4 linked regions of the Homo sapiens genome follow. The protein of the gene in region 1 interacts with the protein of each later gene in a biochemical or structural test. Each region holds a gene or a part of one and is shown in the gene's direction. Other genes may lie near its edges. The genes, in order: SHANK1, CACNA1D, WWTR1 and DLGAP1.

Evidence for each region.
Region 2: the proteins of SHANK1 (region 1) and CACNA1D interact in a biophysical measurement, tested with the Homo sapiens proteins (2 studies listed by IntAct, with this or other methods).
Region 3: the proteins of SHANK1 (region 1) and WWTR1 interact in a test that uses a peptide from one of them, tested with the Homo sapiens proteins (2 studies listed by IntAct, with this or other methods).
Region 4: the proteins of SHANK1 (region 1) and DLGAP1 are reported together in a solved structure, tested with the Homo sapiens proteins (one study listed by BioGRID).

What each region holds. Positions count from the first base shown.
Region 1 is NC_000019.10:50,702,782-50,709,807, reverse strand, and holds part of SHANK1 (SH3 and multiple ankyrin repeat domains protein 1), read left to right. Parts: intron 1-5,293; coding exon 5,294-5,371; intron 5,372-5,621; coding exon 5,622-5,688; intron 5,689-5,977; coding exon 5,978-6,308; intron 6,309-7,026. UniProt on the Homo sapiens protein: Seems to be an adapter protein in the postsynaptic density (PSD) of excitatory synapses that interconnects receptors of the postsynaptic membrane including NMDA-type and metabotropic glutamate receptors via complexes with GKAP/PSD-95 and Homer, respectively, and the actin-based cytoskeleton.
Region 2 is NC_000003.12:53,490,596-53,497,625, forward strand, and holds the start of CACNA1D (voltage-dependent L-type calcium channel subunit alpha-1D), read left to right. Parts: upstream 1-4,015; 5' UTR 4,016-4,571; coding exon 4,572-4,638; intron 4,639-5,219; exon of another isoform or gene 5,220-5,234; coding exon of another isoform or gene 5,235-5,412; intron 5,413-6,556; coding exon 6,557-6,866; intron 6,867-7,030. UniProt on the Homo sapiens protein: Voltage-sensitive calcium channels (VSCC) mediate the entry of calcium ions into excitable cells and are also involved in a variety of calcium-dependent processes, including muscle contraction, hormone or neurotransmitter release, gene expression, cell motility, cell division and cell death.
Region 3 is NC_000003.12:149,536,000-149,543,025, reverse strand, and holds part of WWTR1 (WW domain-containing transcription regulator protein 1), read left to right. Parts: intron 1-488; coding exon 489-691; intron 692-7,026. UniProt on the Homo sapiens protein: Transcriptional coactivator which acts as a downstream regulatory target in the Hippo signaling pathway that plays a pivotal role in organ size control and tumor suppression by restricting proliferation and promoting apoptosis.
Region 4 is NC_000018.10:4,445,297-4,452,322, reverse strand, and holds part of DLGAP1 (disks large-associated protein 1), read left to right. Parts: intron 1-7,026. UniProt on the Homo sapiens protein: Part of the postsynaptic scaffold in neuronal cells.

The sequences.
Region 1 (7,026 bases):
AGGCTAAGGCAGGAGGATGGCTTGAGCCCAGGAGTTCGAGACCAGCCTGGGCAACGTGGGAAAACCTGGTCTCTATGAAAAAATACAAAAATTAGCTGGGCACAGTGGCATGCACCTGAAGTCCCAGCTGCTCGGGCAGCTGAGGCAGAAGGATTGCTTGAGCCTGGGAGGTGGAGGCTGCAGTGAGCTATGATCATGCCACTGCACTCCAGCCTGGGTGACAGAGTGAGACCCTGCCTTAAAAAAAAAAATTAGAATTAGACAGCAGGCAGAGTTTTCTTAGTGGGACAGTTGCACAAGTCATTTTCCCCTCCTTGATCTCCTTTCTCAGCTGTGAAATGGGTCAATAATTAATATCTACCATGCAGGCCGGGCGCAGTGGCTCACGCCTGTAATTCCAGCACTTTGGGAGGCCGAGGCGGGCGGATCACTAGGTCAGGAGATTGAGACCATCCTGGCTAACACGCTGAAATCCCGTCTCTACTAAAAATGCAAAAAAAAGTTAGCCAGGCGTGGTGGCGGGCGCCTGTAGTCCCAGCTACTCGGGAGGCTGAGACAGGAGAATGGCGTGAACCCGGGAGGCGGAGTTTGCAGTGAGCCAAGATCATGCCACTGCACTCCAGCCTGGGTGATAGAGCGAGACTCCGTCTCAAAAAAATAAATAAATAAATATCTACCATGCAAAAGGATCAAGTGGGTTAATAGGTTTGCTTGCCTTTGCCATGGGCTTAACAAACCGATGCATAACACATACGAACTTGATTCCTCCATTTCCCCCCTTGTCTTCCTCCCAGGCTTTAAGCTTTCCAAGAGCCAGGGCTGAGTCTGACAGTTTTTCCTCAGCCTCTGCCGCCTTGGCCTCCTGATATGCCCGTCTAGCATTTGGTGGTGAATGTCAGATCCGTGTCTAGGCTGTGAGCACCTCAAGGGTGGGGGTTGAGTCTGATTACTTGCTCTGTTCCAGGACCCCAGCAAACAGCAGGCCTAGTTCCATCTTTGTTGAGTGAGTGAATGAATGAATGAAAATGAGTGAATGAATGATGGGGTCAGCCCTCTTGGATTTCCACCAAGACTGTGCACAGTGCCTGGCTCAGAGCATTCAACAGGTGTTTGCTTGTTTCAACAGACTGAATGACTCAACCAATGAATGAATGACTCGAACAAATGAATTTTGACTGACTCAACCCCACATCCTCCATCCTCATCCTTTCCATGCACGTTCCTTGAGCACCTACTATGTGCACAGCACCAGGCCTTGGGGATGTGAGATGAATCAGACACAGCATCTGGCCTGGGGAGGGCGAGGGCGGGGTTGGGGGGGGTGGGAGTTCACAGTCTGGTGAGGAGGCAGACGTGTAAGCAAATCATGGCTACGACATGAGATAAGTGCTAGGATGCCGTTAAATGCGAGTTTCTCTTGGTGCCCAGGGGAGGGAGCCATCAACTCTGACTTGCACACCTTCTCAGCTTTGTAAGAGTAGGATGAGGAGCAGGTGACCTTAGGGGCTGTGCTCTGGCCCTGTGCCCCCAGTGTGGGTGTTGGGGCTGTGAAAACATGCAAAAAGCCAGGCGCGGTGCCTCACACCTGTAATCCCAGCACTTTGGGAGGCTGAAGCAGGCGGATCACGAGGTCAGGAGTTCAAGACAAGTCTGGCCAAGATGGTGAAACCCTGTCTCTACTAAAAAGACAAAAATTAGCCAGGCATGGTGGCGGGCACCTGTAATCCCAGCTACTTGGGAGGCTGAGGCAGAGAATTGCCTGAACTCAGGAAGCAGAGGTTGTAGTGAGCTGAGATCGCGCCATTGCACTCCAGCCTGGGTAACAGAGTGAGACTCCATCTCAAAAGAAAAGAAAAGAAAAGAAAAGAAAAGAAAAGAAAAGAAAAGAAAAGAAAAGAAAAGAAAAGAAAAGAAAAGAAAAGAAAAGAAAAACACGCAAAAGTACACATGGCAGGAGTTAACAGTCTAGTTGGCCAGCAGCACGGGCATACACAGACTCACATGCACACACACACTCCCAAACACACCCAGAACACACACTGGGCTAACTCTGCTGCCCGATGTGTGACTTTGGCAGTCAGAGTCGTCCATTCATAGGAGATAGGTGAACCATAGGATCAGAAGGCCAGGTGCACAGGAGGATTGCTTGAGCCCAAAAGGTGGAGGCTGCAGTGAGCCGAGATCACGCCACTGCACTCCAGCCTGGCAACAGAGCGAGACTCTGTCTCAAAAAAAAAAAAAAAGGAAGAAGAAGGCCAGGTTGTTGGAATCCTAACTGCTCCACTAACTGGTTGTGTGGCCCTGGGCGTAGCATCTGCCCTCTCTGAACCTGTCCTGTAACATAGGCCCATACAAACCCCTTGGTGGATTTGTCATGTGGAAGGGGTAAGATCAAGGAGGTGCTTGGGAAATGGTGGTTAAATTAGCATCAGAGGGCGCTGGGGTAGAGTTGAGCTGGAGGCCAAGTTGGGTTTGGCCAGGCCAAGATAAAAGGGAGAGGACACTCCTTCTACCGAATAGTCCCTGTGGGTCCAGCATTAATCCAGGTGGTGGGTGCCACAGGCAAAATCATGCCCCTGTACAACTTATGGTGTAGAGGAGAAGAGACACTACTGAGACAAATAACAGGAAATGGAATTTCAGTGAGACGGGGTTACGAAGAAAATGAGTTAACATTGGCTTAGAGTGCCTGGCACATACATCAGTGTGGTACTAAAAAATAAAGCAAAGGGTTGAGCACGGTGGCTCATGCCTGTTATCCCAGCACTTTGGGAAGCCAAGGCAGGCGGATCACCTGAGGTTGGGAGTTCGAGACCAGCCTGGACAACATGGGGAAACCCTGTCTCTACTAAAAATACAAAAATTAGCCAGACATGGTGGTGGGTGCCTGTAATCTCAGCTACTTGGGAGGCTGAGGCAGGAGAATCGCTTGAACCTGGGAGGCAGAGGTTGCAGTGAGCCGAGATCGTGTCACTGCACTCCAGCCTGGGTGACAAGAGCGAAACTCCATCTCAAAAAAATTTTAAAAATAAATAAATAAATAAAAATAAAGCAAGGAAGAGGACAAGGGTTTTTTTTTTAGACAGGATGGCCAGAGAAGACCTCTCTGAAGAGGCGGCATTTGTGCAAAAGCCTGAACGAAGTGAGGAAGCAAGCTATGCTGAGATCTAGCGGGAAAGGATTCCAAGCAGAGGGAGCAGCCGTGCAAAGGTCCTGGGGCATTAGTGTGCTGTCAGAGGAAGGAGGTGGCCAGTGTGGCTGCAGCCTGGGAGCAAGGGCAGGTGGTAGAAGATGAAGTTGGTGAGGGTCAGGGTGGGGAGTGGCAGGGCAGGCAGCTCAGGTTAGCTCAGCTAACCCTAACCCTCCTAGGCCGTGGCATGGACTTTGTGCTTAGCCCAAAAAGTGATGATGGGTGCCATGTGATTGACACCGGTGAGAAATTGATCTGAATGTAGAAGGCATCCCTGTCCCCACTGGCCCAGTCCTGCCCCCACCCTTTCCTCCACAATGTGTGTCCCCTTCCTTCTGGGCCTGGCAGAAAGTGTGATTAAGATAGAAGACTTTGGAGTCAGAGAGATCTGGGTTCGAATCCAAGGCTGATAATCACCAGCTGTGTGACCTTGAGCCCCCCCAACCCCCCCTTTTTTTTGAGACAGGGTCTCACTTTGTCACCCAGACTGGAGTGCAGTGGCATGAACAAGGATCTTTGCAGCCTCGACCTCTTGGGCTCAAGTGATCCTCTCACCTCAGCCCCACAAGTAGTTGGGACTACAGGCGTGTGCCACCAAGCCAGGCTAATTTTTTAAAATTTTCTGTACAGACGGGGTTTCGCCATGTTGCCCAGGCTGGTCTCAAACTCCTGGGCTCAAGCGATCCTCCCTCCTCGGCTTCCCAAAGTGCTGGGATTACAGGAGTGAGCCACCACCCCTGGCCCACCTTGGGCTCTTTTGAAAGCCTTAGTTTCCTCCTCTGTAAAATAGAGACAATTTCCATGTCCTGGAATTGTTGGGCAATTCAATGAGCTTCTGCCTCTAAAGTGCCAAGCGCCTGGCACGTAACATGGTAAGCCTCCGTAAGGTCTAGACCTGTGGTTCTCAACCTGGGAGCTTCTGTCTCCCAGGGGACACTTGGCAATGTCTAGAGACATTTTTGGTTGTCATGACTGGGGAGGGGAGTGCTACTGGCATCTAGTGGTAGAGACCGGGGATGCTACTCAACATCCCACAGGGCTCAGAACACCCTCCACAAACCAATGAATCACCAAAGGATTATCCGGCCCCAACATCCAGTGGAACATAGCATGAGCACATACCCTAAATGCCCTCAAATATCCTAGTGGCCATGTTAAAGAGAAGGGGAAAATAATTAGGTGACATTTATTTTAACAACATATTTTACTTATAACAGTGTATCTAAAACATTATCATTTCAACATAGAATCAATACAGAAATTATTATTTTTTTTTGAGACAGAGTCTCACTCTGTCACCCAGGCTGGAGTGCAGTGGCAGGATCTCGGCTCACTGCAACCTCCACCTCCTGGGTTCAAGTGATTCTCCCACCTCAGCCTCCTGAGTAGCTGGGATTACACACGCCCACCACCACGCCTGGCTAATTTTTGTATTTTCTGATAGAGACGGGGTTTCACCATGTTGGCCAGGCTGGGCTCAAATACCTGGCCTCAAGTGATCCACTCACCTCAGCCTTCCAAAGTGCTGGGATTACAGGTGTGTGTCACCACACCTGACATTTTTTTTTTCTGGGGGGGAGACAGGTCCCTGCTCTGTCACTCAGGCTTGATCTCAGCTCACTGCAGCCTCCAACTCCTGAGCTCAAGCGATCCTCCCACCTCAGCCTCCCAAGTATTCGGGACTCCAGGCACCCACCACCTGCCTGGCTAATTTCTGTTTATTTTTTTGTAGAGACGGGGGGCGTCTCACTATGTCACCCAGGCTGGTCTGGAACTCCTGCCTTGGCCTCCCACAGTCTTAGGATTACAGGCTTGAGCCACCACGCCTGGCTATAGACATTTAAATTCTTTCTTGTTTTCATATGGCATATCCTTGAAATCCAGTGTGTAGTTCGCATGCATGGTGCATCTCCGTTTGGGCCGGCCACGTTTAAACTAAAGTGCTCCTGGTCCGTACCTGGCAGGTGGCTGCTGTCCTCAGTGGTGCGGGTTTAGGGTGGAGTATTTATTCCTGAGGCTCTTAGCACAGAACCTGCATCCACTCATGGTGATCTTAATTTTTTCTCTCTCTCTTTGTCCTGTGCCACTGGCCATTACCCGCAGGAGACCTGTGCCAGGATCCTCCTGTATCGAGGTGCCGACAAGGATGTGAAGAACAACAACGGACAGACCCCCTTCCAGGTCTGGGGCTGCAGGGGATGTGCTGGAGTTTCCAGGGCTAAGGAAAGGGTGACAGTGACACCCAGTGGATAAGGAAGGGGACAATGAGGAAAGCAAGGAGACAGGCCGTGGAGGGGGAGCTGGAAGAAGACAGAGGGCGGCATTGTCGGAGTGGAAGGTTTGGGTCGGGCCAGGGACCTCGCCACGTTCCCTGCCCTCTCTCTGCTGCCTGGGCCCCCCTGGCCGACCTGCCTCTACCCCCTCCCTCCAGGTGGCAGTGATTGCTGGGAATTTTGAGCTGGGGGAGCTGATCCGAAACCACCGAGAACAGGATGTGGGTGAGTGACAGGGAGCTCGGACTGCACAGAGAACCTGGGGCGGTTGAGGTTTCATGGTGGGATGGGGGAGTTGGGGGACCTGACTTGGGGGCCAGGATAGGATGGAGAAAACCCTAGAGGACCAAAAATGTCTGGATGGTGGTGGGGGAGCAATTCCAGGCCCCCCTCCCTTTCTCATCTCTGTCTTTCTCCCTCATGCCTCTCTCCCACCATCTCTTGCCCCCGCATGGCCCCCTGCTTGCCTTTTCTCCCCTAACATCTGCCCCCCGCCGCCACTGTGCCCTCTCAGTGCCCTTCCAGGAGTCCCCCAAGTACGCGGCCCGGCGACGGGGGCCCCCAGGCACAGGGCTGACGGTGCCCCCGGCGCTGCTGCGGGCCAACAGTGACACCAGCATGGCGCTGCCCGACTGGATGGTGTTCTCCGCCCCGGGGGCCGCGTCCTCTGGGGCCCCTGGCCCTACCTCAGGGTCCCAGGGCCAGTCGCAGCCCTCGGCCCCCACCACCAAGCTCAGCAGCGGGACCCTCCGAAGTGCCAGCAGCCCCCGGGGTGCCAGGGCCCGCTCTCCATCCCGAGGGAGGCACCCTGAGGACGCCAAGAGGCAGCCCCGAGGCCGGCCCAGGTAGGGGAGGCAGCCCTGGCTCCACAGTCCCCAGCCCCGTCAAATCCCCTCTCCAGATCGGCGGCTTCCCCCGAGGCCAGCCCAGCTGCCTTCCTCTGTAGGCCCTCATCCAAGTCCCTAGTGTCACCTTGGGGTAAAGCAAGGCCTTGGGAGCTACTGTCCCGACTCCACCCCCGGTGCACCACATGTTAGCTGGATGTCTGCTCCAGGACAGGGGCCCCAGGCAGAGGGTACCCCAAAGAAACATGGGCCCCAGCCCCTGGGGACAGACAGAATGACAGGGTGAGGTGGAGGGAAGCTGAACAGGAAGAGGATGGGGGGGGTGGCAGGGACTTGAGGGGGACAGAGAGGTCACTCTGGAGGGAGGATGAGGAAGGGGCGGGGGACATTCCGGGGTCAGGAAGCCCACCTGGCTAGAGGAGGGTGAGAAGGAGGCGAAGGCCAGCCAGGCGTGTCCCGAGGAAGTGGGGGAGAGGCTGGCAACGGCGGGCAGAGGAGTTGGACCTGACCCAGGAGGAAGCTGGGAGTCGCGGAAGGCTCGTGAGCGGAGGGATGACACAGTCCCAGCTCAGCCTCAGGAAGCTGAATCAGGCGGTGCGCGCAGGACCGTGGGAGGGGGCAGAGCCGGAAGCCAGGAGGCAGGAGAGGGGGCTGGTTGGGGCAGCTGCGGGCAGGCAGAGGGAGCCCCCAAATGCCCTCTTCCTTGGAGGACGCCAGT
Region 2 (7,030 bases), on another chromosome or scaffold:
AGGTAATCATGTCTGGCATGCCAGCTCAGTGCGTTCAAGTGGGAGTGCTTTATAAATAAGGTCATGGAGATTAAGACCCCACAATAGTGTGTTAGCAACATAATTGGGTTGTAGCACATGTAGCTGATTTAGAGCTGAAATCTTTTGTTTTAGCCTTTCCTCATGTCTTGTTGGCTCAGCTACTAAGTAATTGTGTGTGGTTTTGGGCGAGCTACTTAACTCCTCAGTGTCTTGGTTTTGTTGTCTGTAAAATGAGTTTTGTTTTTTTTTTTTTTTAGAGTTTTGCTCCGTTGCCCAAGCTGGAGTGCAGTGGCACAATCTCTGCTCACTGCAACCTCCACCTCCCAGGTTGAAGTGATTCTTCTGCCTCAGCCACCCACGTAGCTGGGACTTAAGGCGCACGCCACCATCCCCAGCTAATTTTTGTAATTTTAGTAGAGATGGGGTTTCACCATGTTGGCCAGGCTGGTCTCAAATTCATGGACTCAAGCCCGCCTTGGCCTTCCAAAGTGCTGGGATTATAGGCATGAGCCACTGAGCCTGGCCAAAATGAGGGTTTTATAGTACCTCGTAGGCTTGTTACGAGAATTAAATGAGTTAGTACATATAAAGTGCCTACCCTAGAACCTGGCACACAGGAAGCCTTTAAAAGATCTTATTATTTATTTATTCAGTAGTTTGCATTATCATGGGAATATAAATATTTAAATTACCCAATGGGCCAACGCATCTAGAGCTGTGCTGAATCAAGGCCCTCAAAAAAAAAAAATGCTTGCTGGAGACATCGCCAAGATGAGACTCATTCAGAAACTGGGATGGAATGTCAAAAACTCCAATTCAAGGCTGAGCAGTGGCTCATGCCCGTAATCCCAGCACGCTGGGAGGCTGAGGCAGAACTGCTTGAAGCCAGGGCTTGCAGCTTACAGTGAACTATGATCACACCACTGCACTCCAATCTGGGCAACATAGTGAGACCCTGTTTCTAAAAATAATTATTTAAAAAAAAAACCCCAAACCCTCCTGCAATACCATAAACTTGTTAAGATCTAACGCACAAAACCTGGAGACCGAAACCACAATTTAATCATGTCACTTTTGAGCTAAAACAACTTCACTGGCTCTCACTGCCAAGAAATTGAATCTGGTCTTCTTAGCCAGCCAGCCTTCCTCCACAGATTTGGGTTGGCCTTTCCAGCCTCCTCCTCCTCTAGCCCAGGGGGTCTTTGCCTCAGCCACACTGTGCTCCTGCTCATTTTTAAACACACCCACCTTGCACTTCAGTCTCCCCTGTGCCTTTGCTCTTACCCCCAAAGCTCATTCCTCATACATCATTTATGCCCTGTAAAAGTAGTCACCTGTTTTTAATAGACTTTATTTTTTTTAAGAGCAGTTTTAGGTTTACAGAAAAATTTTGCAGCAAGGACAGAATTCCCATATATTCTCTCCCCCAACAGTTTCTCCTATTAACATCTTGCATTAGTGAGCTACACTATATACACAGTTATAACACTGGTACACCCCAGTGTTATAATTGATGAACCAATATTGTGGTACTACTATTAACAAAAGTCTATAGTTTGCATTAGGGTTTATGCTTTGTGGTGTACAGTCCAACGGGTTTTTGACAAACGCATAATGTCCTACGTCCATCATGGCAGTATCATAAAGAATAGCTTCACTGCCCTAGAATTCCCTGTATGCCACCTATTCATCCCTCTTTCTCCCGGTCAGTTTTTAAGAATCAGTTCAAATGCCCTCTCTTCTGTGAAAACATCTCAGTTCCCTCAGTTACAATTAATCTGTCTGATGCTTGTATAGCGCTTTTTCATACTTGTTATAGCTGCTATGTTTGCATGGTATGAAAGAAGTATACACGGCCGGGCGCGCGGTGGCTCACGGCTGTAATCCCAGCACTTTGGGAGGCCGAGGCAGGTGTATCACCTGAGGTCAGGAGTTTGAGACCAGCCTGGCCAACACGGTGAAACCCCGTCTCTACTAAAAATACAAAAATTACCTGAGGGTGGTGGCGCGCGCCTGTAGTCCCACCTATTCAGGAGGCTGAGGCAGGAGAATCTCTCTTGAACTCAACAGGCAGAGGTTACAGTGAGCTGAAACTGCATCACTGCATTCCAGCCTGGACAACAGAGTGAGCAAGACTCCGTCTCAAAAAAAAAAAAAGTATACAAACTTTTCTTCTGTCATTAGGTTGTCCTTGAGGAAGGAACTGTGCCATAGATTTGTCCTGACATCTAGACCAGACCCTTATTCTTAACCGGTGCCTTATGAATGCTGGCTGCACTGAACTGAACAATGAGCAAATATGGTTCGGCTCAGTCATCCACTAGATACAGTATTTTTCCCTCTAGACAGGAGCTGCTGTTTGCAAATCTCCCCCATTCCAAATCTGAGCCAGCAAAGGTATCATAAAACAAACTTGCTCAGGGAATTTTGTAGAAAAGGCCTCAAGAGGCAAGGCTTTAGACCAGGAGTTCTGAAAGTGACATGTGTACTTGTGAATTTCATACATGCTCCTTGGATGGGCTAGTTTCTTTGGAGGGAACCGTCTTCTATTCCCTTCAGATTTTGGATCAGAAGCAGCCATAGGAGAGGTGGCCCAGGCCAGCTTTATATTGTTACTAGACCGTAGGGCGATTTCTCGCCTCTCCAGTCTCCAAAAACAAAGCACAAAAAAGGACAAGAGCCTGGTTGTTTTCATCCTCACGGACCAGACACCCCCTCAGGAAGGCCTCTGGAGAGTCTTCTGTCTGGTCCCCAGTCTCTCTGCCCAGGTGCCCCCCAACAATTGAGGATGACTAGTGTGTTCTCTTTGGGTAAGGAGCACCTTCCCATAAACACTTATTTTTCTTAATTCACGCTGAGCTTTTACTTTATTTTCGCTTTAAAGTCACTGTTCTGAAACGTTCTAAAACGCCGTAGGAACATGCAGATAGGAACAAAAGCAAATAAATCGAATCCTGTGAAGTAACAAAGCAGACGCCCTTCTCCTAACAGGCAGCACAAAGCTAAATGAAAAATATCAGTCATCCACTAGATAAAGTATTTTCCCCTTTAGACAGGAGCTGCCGTTTGCAAATCTCCCCCACCCTAAATCCAAGCCAGCGAAGGTATCAAAAAATAAACTACTCCCTTCAGCTCCCAGACTGGAGGCAACAGTTTCAGCAGCACCGTCTATTTCCTTGAACAACACGAGCGGTTTGAAAGACCTTGGCTTTGACTTCCCTGTACCTGCCTCCAAACACACGTGGGGGCGGGGTGGGGTGGGGGGAGATATTGCCCCCCATCCCCGTTGCCTTCCGCGACGCCAGGCCAGGCGCAGGGCAGGGGAGAAGATGGGGGGCGCCCTGGATTCGCGGTTCCAGCTGCAGGCAGTTACCTGGGGTAGTGAGTGCTCTCTACAGACCCGGGCTACCCCAACCCCCCCGATTCCAGAAAGGGCCGGAGAAAAGCAGGGGGCGCCTGCCCCGCTCCGGAGCAGCCAGGGAGCCCGGCCGAGCCTTGACGAGGATGAGCTCGGAGACCGCAGCAGCTACCGCCCGCTAGCACCTGAGCTCCCAGGGGGCGGGGCCTCCTCCAGGTGTGCGCAGAGGAGGCCGGCGCGGAGTCGGGGCCGGCGCGGGAGCCCGAGCTGTCCCCCAGCCCAGAAATGCGCGGGGAGGAGCGGTTCATCCGCACCCCAGCGCCGCGGGAGACACTGGCGCCGCCTGCCTCCTCCGGGTCCCGGGGGGAGAGCGCACCGTGCGGCGCGGAGGGGGTTAACCGGGCAGCCCGCCGCTGGAGCGCGCTTAACCCTTTGGAGCCCGCAGGTCAGCCGGGCCAGGCTGGGGTGGCGGCACCCCGAGTCCCACGCGACGGCCACCCCGAGCGCGCAAGTGGTGCCGGGCAGAACCGCGCGCCGGGCTGCAGACCCGCCGGGGCGCGGCGCGGCGCGGGCCGTGGGCGGCTCGGGGCGGGCGGAGGGCGGGGGACGGCGGCGGGCGCGCAGCGTCGCCAGGGCGAAGCCGGCGTGCGGCGCGGCGCGGCGGGCGCGGAGCGAGCGGGCGGGCGAGCGCCTCCGTCCCCGGATGTGAGCTCCGGCTGCCCGCGGTCCCGAGCCAGCGGCGGCGCGGGCGGCGGCGGCGGGCACCGGGCACCGCGGCGGGCGGGCAGACGGGCGGGCATGGGGGGAGCGCCGAGCGGCCCCGGCGGCCGGGCCGGCATCACCGCGGCGTCTCTCCGCTAGAGGAGGGGACAAGCCAGTTCTCCTTTGCAGCAAAAAATTACATGTATATATTATTAAGATAATATATACATTGGATTTTATTTTTTTAAAAAGTTTATTTTGCTCCATTTTTGAAAAAGAGAGAGCTTGGGTGGCGAGCGGTTTTTTTTTTAAATCAATTATCCTTATTTTCTGTTATTTGTCCCCGTCCCTCCCCACCCCCCTGCTGAAGCGAGAATAAGGGCAGGGACCGCGGCTCCTACCTCTTGGTGATCCCCTTCCCCATTCCGCCCCCGCCTCAACGCCCAGCACAGTGCCCTGCACACAGTAGTCGCTCAATAAATGTTCGTGGATGATGATGATGATGATGATGAAAAAAATGCAGCATCAACGGCAGCAGCAAGCGGACCACGCGAACGGTGAGCAGCCAGAGCCCGGGCACCCGCTGCCAAATCCGATCCTGTCATGGTCCTCCAGCCCCCTCCCCCTTCCCCGCGGCGCTGGATGGGTTGAGGGGGTTGGAGAGGGTGCTGCCAGCTCGGTGTCGTCTACACAGAGAGGGGACATGCGTGACAGCCACTCCGCGCTCCCCTCCAGGCCCTGAATGTCAGAGTTAATTCTGCATTTGTGGGGTGGGGGCGGCCGTGGAGTGTGTGGAGCGCGGTGCAGCCGGAGGGGCGGCGAGTCGGGGTGATTCGGGTTCAGTGTCCTCGGGCTCAACTTTCCTTCAACGCCCCCGAGCGATGGCAGGAGGGCCGCAAGTCTTCAGCCGGAGCCCCCTTGCCAGCCTCTTCTCGCCTTCCACTCCTCCCCCGCCCCCTCGTTGACTAGGAAGAAGGTCCCTGGTGGCATCCGGAAAATTCTAGGATTGCCCGGTTTCGCCCTCCGCGCCGGTGGGTGAAGCACACCCATCCCCTCGCGGGGGAGGCCCGGCCTCGGTATCGGGGAAAGGGGTTCGGGTGGAGCGTGCGTTCCCGCTCCCGTCGCCGGCTGTGCACACGTCGGTAACCTAGCAATGCCCGGGGAGCCGCTGCCGCTGTGGGGCTCCCCTCCCCAGCTCTGGCCCGGGCACCACGTGCAGCTTCCACGCCGGCCGGGGCTGGGTCGAGGGAGGATGGAGCAGCTCCTGGCCAGCCCTCCCCTTTGGAGACCGCCAGTGCCCCCCAACCCCTGTCGGCTGGAAGCCTTTCCGGGTGAGCGCTCCCCTAGGGAGAAGCTTGACATGACTCGACTCGTCCCCGCTCCGATTGCCCGCCGCTCGCCCGCTTTGCCCTCTTCTCAGGCTTTCAGACCCGTGCTTGCTTTGACTCTTTACTTAGCAATAATTGGCTTTGCAAACGCCCATCTCTCTACCTTGCTGTCACCTCTCTCACTTCTGCTTCAGTGAGGAGACTGTGGCGGAAGGCGGCAGGTGCCTGGGAGATCTGCCTGGGAGATGGCCTGACCCAAAGCTGGCGGGGGCTTCGCATAGGGAGCCTCCTTGAGTTTCTGCCTTGTGTGCACCTGGATACCAACCTACACGGAGATAATTCCCTCTTAGGCCTGGAGGCCCCTGGCATAATCCAGTCAGTCTATCCTAGGTGTAGGGGTGCAGGCTGACTGCCTTGTCTGTCTCTCTGGATGCTGGCTTGGCTGATGCTGCTGCAATTTAAAATGCAAAAAAGCCCTAAAGATGTTTTCTGTTTTCGGAAGCCTGTGGAGGAAATGAGTCCCAAGCATCATGAATTTTCATTTGCAGGAAGTGTCAGTGCATAATCTAGATATTTGTTATGGGGTTTTTGGTATTGCCTGGGTGCCTATGGAAGATTTTTTTTCGGTACTGAAAAAAATGCATTTGTGGCTGTGGAAAGATGTTGGAGTAACACTCTGAAAATGATTAAGACTATTGAATTATTGGTACTGCCTTTTTTTTTCCCCTTGGTGATGGTGGTAGTTATGTTAGAGAAAAGCTGTTGTATGTATCTGTTACTCATTAGAGATAGATGGGTTTTACAAATCAGAGATGCGGAGTAAATGTGGGAATGACCTCAGTTTTGTCAGAAGAAATGCACTAAAAGACCCTTTGTGAAGACATGATGTGAAGGAGTACTAACCCCACTGGGTGTGATGCAGCGGTGATCCTGTGTGATTGACACTGAGACCAGAGCTCGTGGACTTTTCTTGACTCTCCAGCTGACTAAAGCCCAGCTTGTGAAAAATAGCACATGAGATTCAAAATGGAAACATAGGAGTGAATGATTCCCCTGTTATTGATGGGAGACAACCTTTGATTTTTTTCTCCTACCCACTGGATCCTCATTTAAAAAAAAAAATCTTTGTTTTTCTCCTTCTCCCCAGAGGCAAACTATGCAAGAGGCACCAGACTTCCTCTTTCTGGTGAAGGACCAACTTCTCAGCCGAATAGCTCCAAGCAAACTGTCCTGTCTTGGCAAGCTGCAATCGATGCTGCTAGACAGGCCAAGGCTGCCCAAACTATGAGCACCTCTGCACCCCCACCTGTAGGATCTCTCTCCCAAAGAAAACGTCAGCAATACGCCAAGAGCAAAAAACAGGGTAACTCGTCCAACAGCCGACCTGCCCGCGCCCTTTTCTGTTTATCACTCAATAACCCCATCCGAAGAGCCTGCATTAGTATAGTGGAATGGAAGTATCCTTTTTTTGGGGGAAGTCTTTCTCATTTTCTCTTTTACCATCTGTTTTTTAAAAGGATTTGCTTTCTGAAGTGACACAAAGCTGTAGCAGTCTGGAATGCGAGTAACAGAAGTTGTATATAAGGGGTTTCATTGTATATACCTTCCTGTCTCTTCGGGT
Region 3 (7,026 bases), on another chromosome or scaffold:
CCTGATCTAGGTGCTTTGTGTTACATGTTGTTTGTCAATTCACTGGTTTGTGTACCAAAGATCACATGCCCTCCTTACCTCTGCCATAAACACACAAATTAACTGAGAAAGTATACACATGCACACACACACACACACACAAATGATCTGGTGAAATTATCTCATAACTTGTGATAACCTTTGTGGAATTTGCTTTAGACCACTATGTTCTATGTAAGGCTTAAAATGTACTCTAGACAGGGAGGTGTGAAATGAGATTTTAACAGAAACAAAAGCCGAGGCTAGATGAGTCAGGATTGGGGCCAGTATTCGAGCCTCCGTGAATTGAATTAAGGTAATAATTACTTAAACAGTAATGGTTAACAGGAAAGTACTTTGGAAGGAATCTCAGGAATCTATACTCCAAAGCAGAAAACATTCTGATGGTCTATTTTTGATAAGGTATTGTGGGCCCTGGTCATTAATCTGTATGTTCTTCCCTCTTGCAGTGATGAATCACCAACACCAGCAGCAGATGGCCCCCAGTACCCTGAGCCAGCAGAACCACCCCACTCAGAACCCACCCGCAGGGCTCATGAGTATGCCCAATGCGCTGACCACTCAGCAGCAGCAGCAGCAGAAACTGCGGCTTCAGAGAATCCAGATGGAGAGAGAAAGGATTCGAATGCGCCAAGAGGAGCTCATGAGGCAGGTATGGCTTTCCATGGTGTCTGGTGGAGGCTCCCTGGCCTTGGTGCCAAAGCTGATGGGTAGGTAGCTGCTTACCTTCAGGGTAATTCTTCTAGAGAAGAAGAGACAATAGGGCTCAAAGCCCTACTCCAAGCCTCTTGATTAAAATCCAGTTTCTTCTCTCAGTGTTCTGCCTGCCTTTTCAGAACGAAGCTTAAGGGTACAAGGACGAGCTGTATTAGCATGGCTGCCTTTGGCTTCCACTGCTAGTCTTTAGAAGGAGAGAAAGGAGAAAGTAGAGAGACAAGAGTCTGTTGTTGTGTAACAAATTATCCCAAAATGTAGTTGCTTAAATAGCCATTTCATTATATCGCACAATTTTGTGGGTCAGAATTTAGAAGGGGCTCACCTGGGATATTCTTCTGCTCTACATGGCATTGACTGAGGTCATTTAGTGGTATTCAACTGGTAGGTGGGTTGGTCTGGATAGTTCACAATGGCTTTACCTAAGTGGGTGGCATGATGGTGAGGATTGCTGGAAGACTGGGCTAAGCTGGAACAAAAGCCTGGGATCTATGGTGTGGCGATCTCAGAGTAGTGGTACTCATTCCATAGCAGCTGGGTTTTCAAGAAAAAGCATTCTAAGAGACAGGAAGTAGAAGTTGCCAATTTCTTGGGGCCTAGCTCTGGAAACGGTCGTGGAGTCGCTTTTGCCACACTCTCTTGGTCAAAGTAGTCACAGAGAACCCCCCGAGATTCAAGCAGATAGTGGAGTGGATGTTCCTCAGAAGAAATGACAAAGGATCTTGGTCCACCACAGAGCATGAAAAAGAGGGAAGCTGAAGGGAGAATGAGAAGGGAAAGTGGTTTGTATATGGACTCCAACAGAGTGCTCTGCAAAACTGCCTGGGCATCAATCAGGCACTTTTGTACCATACTCCATTCATTCAGTTTTCATTCCGTCAGTCAGGAGTGTGTTGCCGTGTGCCCTCTGTGGGTCAGGCTCAGTGCTGTACTTCAAAAACGAATACAAGAGAATTCCTAAAAGAACCCACAGTGCTCTCCCTGTTTCAGTGGCTTGGTCTATGGAAGAGCAGAATTCTTTCTTCTGTGTTGCTAAACTAATATAACCCATGTTTTCAGGTCTCATGCTTTTTTTCTGGCTACATTTTTGGGGAGAAAAGCTTCAGTTTATTGTTTTAACTTTTCAGACTTTGTTTTGTGACTCACATGAAGCAAGATACATGAATAACTTCCTTTTGCTACTTTAGAGAAATTAGAGAAATAAGTAGTTTTAACATTCCAGAGAACTTTCTTGGAGGAAAGGACCGAGCATGTTAGGGTAAATGCTGTTTTTTTAAAGCTACATTTGATACTTTCAAAAATACACATTGACTTCCATGAATGAATAATGTATTTCTCATCAAATACATTCCAGGATATAAGAAATCTATATTGTGTGAGGTTTAAAATGCATGGTAAATTAAAATCATTTCTCAGATATAGTCTTTGAAAATAAGGAAAATGAATATAAATTGTGCTTTGTTGCTCAGCTGAACTTTCCTCCAAATTTGAGGAATACAACTTAATAATTAGGTAACTACAGTTGTGTCTTTTACCCTGAGGATTTATGTTTGAACTTTCACGGTTATTTCAGGCTAACGGTTGTTTATACTGATTTTAGATATATAGTGTCATGTTTCTTGATGGGAAGTAATTGTATTGTTAATTGTTTTCTGTCTTTGAATAATAATTTTATTTGGAATAATTTTTCTGTTTTATAATGTAAGGTAAATTAAACAGTATCCCAACAGCATTTTATACATTCTCAGTTTTATACTTAAATGAGCTTTAGTGAGTTTTTTCTTTACACAAAGTTGTGACCATTCTGCAAAGAATGACTTGCTTCTCTGTTTTTGCGGGTGTGTTTCTCTTTCTCTTGCTTCTCCTCCTTCTTTCCCACAGAAAGTATTTCTGAAAAGGGGTGGGAAAAGTGCCCCAAATTGTTTCCTTTATTCCAGCTGTAGGTGCCTTTGAACCAGGATGTAGTACTGATGGTTCATATTACAGAAATGCCAACCAAGTTCCTTAAATGCTGATCCTTGGAGGCTGTGGAACGTGGGGCGTTGTGCTGCATCATAGTGAGCAATTGCATTGTTGCATTGTATATGAAGCAGGAGAAAAGATTGTCCAGATTTGCTCACAGGGACTCATGTAGTTCAGCCTTGACTCTGTGTGTGTGTGTGTGTGTGTGTGTGTGTGTGTGTGTGTGTGTGTAGTTAGGAGGAGATGGAATGGTGGAGTGGTTGGTTCTGGTGTTCTGATGCCTTTTTATTTTTGTTAGGGAGTACAGGAAAAGGTCTAAATAGACTTTTTAATCATGGCAGATTTTTTCCCCATGCAGAAGCAGCATGCTCCTGATTGTCAAAGATATGATTTAAGACCATATAATAAATGGCATTGGAGTGTTCTATAATAGTTTTCTGGGGCATTTGCCAGGACACCTGATTATTCAGTATTCAGGTGTGGGCTCTGTGTTTCATCTTGGTGGATTTTTTGAACTCTTTTGGTGATTTTCTGCTTCACTTTTTGAACCTAAGCCATGGCAGCAGCAGGGAAATGGACTGGAATTAAAAGTGATCTTTGGCTCACTTGTTTAGTTGCCTTCCAGCATCTGGTAGGAATTTGGAGAGATGGGGGAAGTGGTGGTTCTGGTGAAATTTAAAGATTATCTGTACACTTCTGTTTGTTCTCTCTGTCCTACCCCTATGTCCTGGGTAGTCAACAACTGCCTGAATATCCCTTGCTCAGTGGACAGTTTGTAATTACACTGGCTCTCCTCTTGCTTGTAGGCGGCCTTAATTGTACAGCCTGTCTTCTTGGGGCCCAGGCCCTGCAGGTAGGCCTAGACCTACCTGCCCTTCTACCAACTGAGCCTGTCTGGGAGCAAGGCCCCAGGCTATGCTCTCTTTCTGTAGTAGAAAGGGAGGTTGGCAAAATTTAATAAGTAGATGAATTTATCCCCTAATTACTAATAAATTATCACGCTGTCTATAGTTTTATCATTCTTGAATGATACGACGAATCTGAAAGATCCCTGTGGAGAATATGCTATATAAATATTGTTTCATTTTTCTTCCTGTTCCTTCTGCTATGCCGTTGTTCCACTAGGCATATAGTTTGATGATGTTGTGCCATGAAAAAAACAACTCCTTGGTCCTTGTTGCATGATTTGATGTATACCACAATGCCAAAGGGTCACCTATTAACTCATTGGCATTGAAATCATGCGAGAACATTAACAAAATGGATCTGAGGAAACTTTGATTACAAATCTAAAGTGAGCCTTCATTATTTCAGTATGGAAGCTCATATTTTTTTTCCTTCCTTCATTCCTTTATCTCTTCATTCATTCAATCAATATTTATTTAGTAGAAAATAACAGACAGGTAAATGGGATGTGACTGCCTTCAGATAACTTGTATTTTTGCAGAAAAGGAAAAATAATTAACTTTAATCCAAGTTAAAGACCAGAAGAGTAAATTAAAACCATTCCCTGCTTCACAGGGGCCCAGTGGCTACCATCTTTGACTTTCATTACTGGAACTGAGACCAGATGCACCTGAGCAGAGTTCTGTGAAAGTGAGCATCAGATACTCCTTTTTCTTTCCAGTGACCCCTCAGGTTACTGGCTACAGAATTAGGATCAAAAGAGCCAGTAAGGTTTGGTATCTCTGCTGATAAGGAATCTTCTGAAGCAGGAGAATTTCCTTAAATGCAGTCCCTCCAATCTAGCATTGGCTGGTGTAGCAACAGAGCTGAGCTACTTGTATCTGATAATTGATGAATTATCTTGGAATGCGGCAGACACTTCAAGTGGAGGGGTACCAGGAATCTAACATGGAAGACATAAAGAGTGCATTTCTGTGAAAGGAAGTCTTTTGTCTGTGATAGAGTTTTCTTTTATTTTTACTGAATTTCCCAAAGGCTGTGAGGCTACTTCAGGTTCACCAAAGAAATGGCAACTCTAGAAAAAAAAAGCAATTCTTATTGAAGTTTTGCTTTCTCTTCATTTTTTTAAGGAAATTAAAATTTGATTTGTTGAGTTTTTTTAAGTAGAAAAAAATTTTAATTTTTGACTAAGCGTGGTGGCTGACGCGTGTAATCCCAGCACTTCGGGAAGCCAAGGCGGGCAGATCACTTGAGGTCAGGAGTTCGAGACCAGCCTGGCCGACATGGTGAAACCCTGTCTCTAGTAAAAATACAAAAATTAGCCAGACATAATGGCGGGTGCCGGTAGTCTCAGCTACTCAGGAGGCTGAGGCAGGAGAATCTCTTGGACCTGGGAGGTGGAGGTTGCAGTGAGCTGAGATCGAGCCACTGCACTCCAGCCTGGGCAACAGAGTGAGACTCTGTCTCAAAAAAAAAAAATTAAAAATATAATTTACTGAGTTACTTTAGTGATTAGCATTTAAAAAAGTGTTTTTGCTAAGTGCAAGAAACCAGACTTCCCCCCAAAACTACATCCTGTATGATTCCATTTATGTGACGTTCTGGAAAAGCAAAACTATGGGGACAGAGAAGAGATGAGCACTTGCCAGGGTTGACAGTACAGAAAGAGTAGACTCCAAAGGGGCAGCACTGAGGAATTGTGGGGCAGATGGCACAGTTCCGTGTCTTGGTTGTGGTGGCTATTTCACAGCTCTACATTTGTCAAAACTCAGACATGTATACCACAAAGAGTGAATTTTACTGTATGTAAACAAAAAGAATAATAAAAGAAAACGAATTGCTACACACAAAAAGACAAAACGTATGTTTATGGTACGGAATGTATAAAATACTAAACAACAAAGAAGGAAATTATAATCACCTATACTCTTACCTAGAAAGAGTGGCTGTAAATATGCTGATGATTTCTTTCTAGTCTTTTTGTATGTATCATGTGTATCAATGTGTCTACTTTGTTTTTTAAAACACAAAAGTGGTAGCATACTTTAATACTGCTTTGTTGCCTCTTCTTAATATATTGGGAAGTCATTTTTTTATTCTGTGTCAGCCATGAAGTTGTGCTGTGACTTTGTATGTACCCATTCCAAAGCGCCTAGAATCCTTTCTACAACAGGCCGTACATAAATTTTTAAATGTCATGAGCCACACACACCCACAATGACTACAGAGTATTCTGTTGTTACAACTGAAAAATTCAACGCAATATTTGCTCAGTATCCTAAAAGGCACAATTGCAACTTTACCAAATGAAGTGGGAAATCGTAGTCACAGGTCAGACATTGAGAAACAGGCTTCTCAATGCCTGTTTATCTAAAAGAACAATTCCTTGACATGAAAACAGGCATATGGCTTTACCTGAAGAGAGTATTTCTTTTCATGTGTGTTATTCATTTAAATATAACGGTTTGGGGCCATCTTTCTGGAAGATTTTAACCTCGAGGACCAGGACCTGGAAGACGAGTAAGTGGCAAAGCCTTGGCTCCCCCTTGTCCCTTCACGGGGGCTGCCTTGTAGAGAAATCATTATTCCCAAAGCAAATTCAGCCCTGCTTTTACCCTCAACCTTTTCTTTCTTTTTTTTTTTTTTTTTAATTTGGGGGTTGGGGGACAGGAGAATGCAGTTTGTCAAACAAAAATGCTGACTAAGCCTGGCCTCGGGTCGCCGGGGCAACAGGGACGAGAAAAGAGGGAGGCCTCGGAATTCTTTTGGCAGGTCTGTGGGATTTCTGCCAGGCTTGACAGCCACCAGGCGCGGCGGGCCAGCTGGCTGACCTCGCACAGCCATCCTGACAGAGGGCTCCTGGAGGGGGACACACCTGGCTGTGAGCAGCACTGGCCTGGGGAAGGTTCTGAGGCCCCCCCCTTTTTTTTTTTGTCATGCAAAGAATAGCTATTTAGCGAGCTAGGAGAGTGTCGTATTGGAGCAGATCATGAAGCATAAATGTAGGCTATTTCATAGCCTTTGCTTCAGAACAGGGGACTATTTAACTTTTAGAAAAGCATTTCATAGCATTAGGTTTCAGAGTTGACTGGGTTAACAGAGGTCACGTAGTCTAATATTTTGTGAATCTATAAATCCCTCCATATAAGCTTGGCTATTTAAGTTCATTCGTTCATATATTTGTTTTACAAATGCTCTAGGCATTAAAAGTACAGCTGTGAACAACAGACCCCAGCCCCTTCCCTCACAGAGCTTCCATTCTAGCTTGTGTCAAGCGTTTTATTTGCTTACATGTCCCAGAAATAATCCATTTTCCAAAATGTCCCAGTGTGCCCTTGTTGTTGAACAATAGTATCAATTCAAGTCTTTTTTTTTCTTTTTCTTCTCTTTTTGAGACACAGTCTC
Region 4 (7,026 bases), on another chromosome or scaffold:
AAACAAAGAATTCAGTGTTTTGATTCTGATCTCGTAATATTTCAAATTCAGAGATAATAGTAAAATGTTATCTAATGTGTATTTCTATAGTGAAATTTCTATGATCAGCTCAAATTCATGTTACCTTCATGACCATTCCCACAAATTGCTCCACTGTTTATCAGAGGAGAGGAAATTGGTTTCCTCTCAGGAAGCATCCAATTAAAATCTACTTTTATGTAGATTTCATCTCTATAGAAATCACACTTACCTCTCTTTTCTTAAATTAAGAAAATGATACAATTTTAGGTTATTTTGTTTATTTTCTCTTTTTCCATTGGTAATTATATTTCCCCTGGTACAGGAACACCATTGAAATAAGAAGGCTAAAAAGACTCTTGAAAAACCTAAACACGTTTCCCCAATCCTCACTTCTCATAGTTATAATCTATGCCTATGTCTGTGGTATGTTGGTCTTTTGTACATTTTTTTTATTTTAAAGAAACACTATCACAAAAAGATACTTTGCTAGCATTGTAGAAAAATCTTTATGTTGTTGTTGAAACACCTGAATGTTCAAAAACATCCCATATCTTGAGCTGTTTTATTTCCTAAGATCCTAAGTGCTACTAGTTCTCTATTTTCAGAGAGGAATAACTACAGTGTCCCTCAAAAGATGTTTTTTCTTTCTTTTTTCCGAAGCATGAGAATTTGTAGCTCGATTCTTGTTACTGCCCGATGAAGGTGACTTTCTCTAGTTGTGTGGTCTATCAGGAATTGCCAAAGATGCTGTTCCTAGGAAGATCTAAAACATTGCATTACCACAGAGGAGGATTTAGAAATAGTCTTCTGACATTCATTTTAATCTATTAGACACCCACAGATAACCGATTGTATGAGATACCAGGTACCAGTTCTTTTGCTTCTAAGATGTAACTATTTAGCTTATACAATGCTGTATACTGTATATTTGCTACACCTTTCCCTGTAACCCTGCCAAACACACACCTACAGAGCAAAACATGTGATTGAGAACAAGAAAAAAATGAGGTGTGATTATAAGGCAGTTAAAAAGGTGAATGACATCCCTTTGAGGTCTTCTGTTCTTTAGTCTGATTGTACAGAGGTTGGTATTGCACAGGAGCCGTGTTGACCCAACCATTTCCCATCCTTCTCTCTAGTAAATGGTAGGGGACAGATAGCTGTTGTATAAGTGAGAAACAGGGTTATCTTCATCCATTATTGACTTAAGATTTTTCCTGGTTGCTTTATTATTTTCTCCCTCCTATAGGAGTTAATGATTACTGGGCAGCAAGTAACATCCCACTTAGGAAAACCAGCTCATGCAAAAGGAAGCCCTGTGGATCTATATCCACAGATATTTGGCTCAGATCCTTGGACTTTTTCTTGGATAGACAACCAGCATAGCTGGGATGTGATTGTCCCACTGGATATCTAATTGTGAACTAGATATCAGTGTTCTGAATATGTTATGAAGATGCAAACCACCTTCCTCCCTCTCCCTAGGATTTGCCAGCAACCAAACTGTTCATTTTCATATTCACTTATCATGGTTTGCTCATCTGTTGCCATTGACAATTTCTCTGTCTTCTCTCAATGTTTTCTTATCAGATTTGTAAGCAACAGCACAACAGCAAACCACAAAGTGTGTGATTTGGAACTGCTCAATCTTGCCAGGTTTTCTTAATATTCAGCAGAGTTGTGGTCTTACTGAAGCCATGGATAAGCATTTGGATGAGGAGACATTGTGCTGTGACTTGCTTATCTCCCTAGCCTTGCATCTGAATCTCTGCACTAGGAGGGCTCAGAGACATTTAAATGGCTCCCTCAGGCGGCTTGTGGGAAGGTCTCTCTGGGCACATTTCCAGCTTTGCTGCTTTACTCTGGTGACACGGTTTTAGCTAATTTGAAAACATCTGCTAGAGTAACTTGCTGTTTTAATTCTACTACTGGAGAACATCTGAGTATGTGATAGGAGGACTGGCACTAACCCTCATTCTAACCTCATGATTACACCCTTTCCCTGGATACCCCTTCTTTCTTGGTTTCAATTTCAGTAGAAATCAGTGTGGAGTCTATTTCTGGACTGCAAATTTCCCTGCTAGATATCACTAAGATTTCTTTACAAAACACATGCTGCAGTTTCAGAGGAAAATGGCATTTTGATCTTGTCTCAGACTTTGCAAACAACCATTCTTTGATATGATTCATCATACTATACTAGCAAAAAGACAAGGCACATTCACTCTCTTCAAAGCTATTTTCGTGTAGACATTAACCCAGAAGGCAAAGTCACCTTTTCATCCTTTCAAATTAGGATGTGCTTTCCGTTTAGAGTTTGGGAGGGTCAGCAGGGGAATCTTGAAGTGGTAATGCATTTGGAAGTCTTTCCTGTGAATCCTTGCCTAGGTAGTTCAGATAAGACTCACTTGATTCTAGAGCTTCTATGGAGCAGGCTAAGAAATCTTTCCCCCTCTCCTTGGAATGCTGTTTCTTACATTGTTCCCTCTTTCCTGGACTTCAGCTGAAAAGTCATTTAATCAGGGAAGGTCTCCAGCTGAATGCTGTTTTAGCACTTTATTCCTTTTTCATGGTCCTTTTACGGTCAATAATGATGTGTTGACTTGTGAGTGTCAGATTGCTTTCCCCACTGAACTGTGCATTCCGTGAGATCAAGAACTAAATATAGAATGTTCACCAAATATCACTGATGCCTAGCACAGCACCTGGCACTTAATAAATGGTGGGTAAACATTGGTTGAGTGAATGAATAAACAAGTGAATGCACATCTGTATTCTTAGTGCATAAGGGCCATAACTCTGAGGATGGTGTTACACAGCTTTTGCATGGCACTTCTTTGCAATGTCAGATGCTGTGTTCTTTGGTCCTAAGTTTACTCTGTTAATACCTGGTAAACACTGAGCTGATCCCAGCCTGAATATAAGGTGATGGGCTACGCAGTGCTACATTTCCCAACTAGGCAACATGCACTCTGCTGGCAAGCAGAGGTAAGGTTTTGAAATACAATAAGGATTTTAAAAAGGAAGCAAAGAAAAAACAAACTCCTGTTCCCTCTTCTTCCTCCTCCTTCTTATTCAAAATTAACATATTAGTAGATTAATTGTCTTACTTTATTCTGACCCTTTAAGGCTTAGCATAAACTTCTTTCCTACCCCTCACCTCTTACATTGAGTTCTCCTTTTTGTGTCTCCATTGAGTCTGATACGTAATTATAACCTAGTTTTGTTTTTCATTTTCTGCGTATATGCCTGTCTCCCTCTAGGAGACCAGAAGCTCAAGGGAGACCAGAGACAGTGGCCCCTATGTGGTTTGTAAGTGGAAGAAAGCAAAAGTTCACCAAGGACTCAAAGAATAAATCAGATCACAGGGATGAGGTGGAAAGTGTTGTGGGAGGCAGAGAAGCAGCTACAACTGCCTTTCTTGCTTGAGGCTGATCTCTATGTAGGTACGTAGATGTGGGTTGGCTCTCACAGGGGAGACTGGAATCTAACATCTTTACTGATGTGGAATCACAGCCTTCTAGGTATTTTCATGAATTTTTTATACTAGTTTTGTTTCTGGCCAGACATGTAGTGTATTCTGTTCTACTATCTGCTTCTGAACTACTGGAATGATGTGGTGAGGTGGGCCAGCCTTGGGGATATGTTAACCTTCCATGTGGCACCCTGCTGTAGATACCACATCTACCATTCAGCTTCGAATGGCCTGTGAGGAATGGTGAGACAGAATGCGAACATGCACCATGTTTTTATAAACTATGGTGCATAATAATTCCTCTAGATTTGCATGTGCTTTATAGATAATTGAAAACACTCTGCTTTGATGATATGAATCCTAAGGGATCTTGATGATAGATGTCAGGTATTTTGGTAGGTATATATCCAGCCTTTCCAAGTATGGGCAAACAAAAAATATTTGTAACATCTCCTGGGTACTTATTACTGTGAAGAATATAGAAGAGCAAGACCTAGTTAAACTCCTTGGGTAGCTTGAAATGTAATACAAAGAATACGATTAAAATGTAGGAAATAATTAGTAATAATGGGTTACAGAATGAAACTGGTGCTCAAATGTACTTATTTTGGGCTTTTCTGTAGGAGTAGGGGCTCAACAGAGAATGAGATCATTTTGGAATGCTTCCAATAGGGAAGATCTGAAGCTAGATTTTCATGGATTTGTAAGACTTACATAGGAAGAAGGACCGACTTTCAGATAGAGAAAACATTTGCATAGACGTGGAGGTGCAAATGAACTTGGCATGTTCCTGGTCCAGAAGATGGTTCTCTCCTCCAGTTCCTCCACTTTAATTAGACCTGAAGATGAATTTGATTGAGAGGGTCATTAATGGCTATACAAGAATGTTTAGATTTGATAGGAACCACTGACAGATTCTGAATAGGCAGTGACGTGAAGAAGTGGCCTCTTGGACTGATAGGAGTAGATGGGTCTAACACCAGACTGGGACAGAGAGAAGCATGAAGAGGCTGTTTTAGTGAGGCTTACATTATTGGGAATCAAGTCCAGGGAAGTAGAAATGGGAGTAAATATTTTGAAAAATTTTCAAGCAATATTTGACTCTTTCCTTTCTCTTTTACTCTGTACCTGTGTCACACATTCTTTTTAATTCTTTATTATTCATTAAAAATTCCTGTGAAATATTTCAGGAACACCAAAAATTAAATAATATTATAAACCCCTTTGTGTCCACCACCCAGATGGTGAAATAAATCATTGCATACACTGTTGAGACTTCAGTGTACTCTTCATGTCTTCCCTCAGAGGGACTCAGCCCACTGAGTTTTGTGTTTATTGTTCTTATGCATGCATTTCCTTATTCTTTGCTATGTATGTATGTGTACCTAAGCAATATAGTCTTGTTTTGCTTTTTTAGACTATTTATAAGTAGTAATAATGCTCTTGTAGTCTTCTTTACCTTACTGTAATTGTTCAGTATTTTGATGACATGTAGATCTGATTTATTCATTTTTACTGATATATGGTATTCCATTGTAGAACTGTATCATGATAAAGGTATCAATCTTTGTTGATGGACATTTAAGATGTTTCCAAATAAGGCTGATGTGAACATTCACGTGTACATCACCTTGTGCTAACAAAGGGGACTCTGATTAGGGTGGAGGGGGATTGCAGTAGGGTAATAGTCGTATCTTCACATCTAGCAGATAATGCAAATTACCAAAAATGGTTGTACCTATTTATGATCCCAACAGCAATCTATAAGAACACCTTTTGTTTTATATCCTTGTCAACACTTGGTGATACATTTTATTTTTGGCCAATCTTATGGATATGAAATGATATCTCATTGTAGTTTTAATTTGTTCTTCCATGTCTCCTGGTAATGTTGATGATTTATTCCCTCTCTTTATTAATATTCTAGTTGCTGTGGATTCCTTATTCATACATGTTCCCCACTCTCCTACTTCTTTTTGTTAAACTTATTGATTTGTAAGAGCTGTTTATATATTCTGGATACCAGAGTTTTGTTCTGTAATAGGCATTTCAGTTATCTCCACTCAGTTGGTGGCTTGTCTTCTCATTTTTATGATGTCTCTGGATGAAAAGATTATGTTTAAATTTAAAATAGTTGCATTTTAAATTCTCTTTATGGTACCAATAAGATATGTTTGAGAAATGTTTTCCAATTCTGAAATGACAAAGATATTATTATTTAGTTCTTCAAGACTTTTATATCCATAGTTATTTTATAAAGCCTTTAATTACATTCTAAATTTAGGCAAAACACCCATCTTCTCTTAGTCTTAATTTCTTACTCATTACGTTAGAGAGCAAGGTGGTTGTACTGTATGAGTTCTGCTGCTGCTGCTGCTGCTGCTGCTTGACTTCACAACTTCATCATTTTATGCCTGGAATACATAGCAGCTTCTTAATGGGATGTCTAATCTCTAGGATCTGATTAAACTCACATCAAAATTTACTTTTCTAAAATGCTCTTGAGGTCATCATGAAACTCCTCAAACTTTGTCCTGGAGCCCCCCAAAAGAGCAACAATCCCATTCGCTAGTATTCCCCTGCCTACTCCAGACCCGAGTATGCCTAGAACGTGGTTGGCCTTCAGATGTGTCAGTGGGACGAGTGTGTGAAGACACAATTGGTTCTCATCATTGCTTACCCTCATTTCCTAATAATCTCTTGCATCAGCCTCCACCATGACCACTCCTGTTTGTCAGGGCTCTGCTGTTCCAGCTATTTTTCCTCTTTGTTTATTTGCATGTACTCAAGCTCCATCTACTTGATGAATTGTTAACAGTGGCTGCTCCTAGAGACTAGGACAAGGAGCCTCAGGGGTTTTCTTTCCCTTTCTGTCCTTCTATCTAGTTGACTGTTTTACCAGGAGGAAGGATTTCTTTTAAAATAATTGTTTTAATGTCCTTTGTATCCTTCAAGGCCCAGCCAAATCTCACCTCTCACAGCACACATTTTATGACTACTCAGCTGAGGGTAAACTCTTCTCTGAATTCCAGTTGCATTTATCTGGATTACTTACTTTATTATAATATTCACATTTTTAACATTTTATGTGAATATTCTGAGATTTTAAGCTCTTTTAAGTAGTGAATTAGCTGATGTTTTTTGCATGTCTCATAGGCTTGAGCCCAGTAGCTAGTAGAGTGACTTTTCAAGGGGTAGCAGCTGCTTTCTTGATGATTGGCATGGATGAAATTGGAAATCATCATTCTCAGTAAACTATCGCAAGAACAAAAAACCAAACACCGCATATTCTCACTCATAGGTGGGAATTGAACATTGAGATCACATGGACACAGGAAGGGGAATATCATACTCTGGGGACTGTGGTGGGGTGGGGGGAGGGGGGAGGGATAGCATTGGGAGATATACCTAATGCTAGATGACGAGTTAGTGGGTGCAGCGCACCAGCATGGCACATGTATACGTATGTAACTAACCTGCATAAGGTGCACATGTACCCTAAAACTTAAAGTATAATAAAAAAAAAAAGA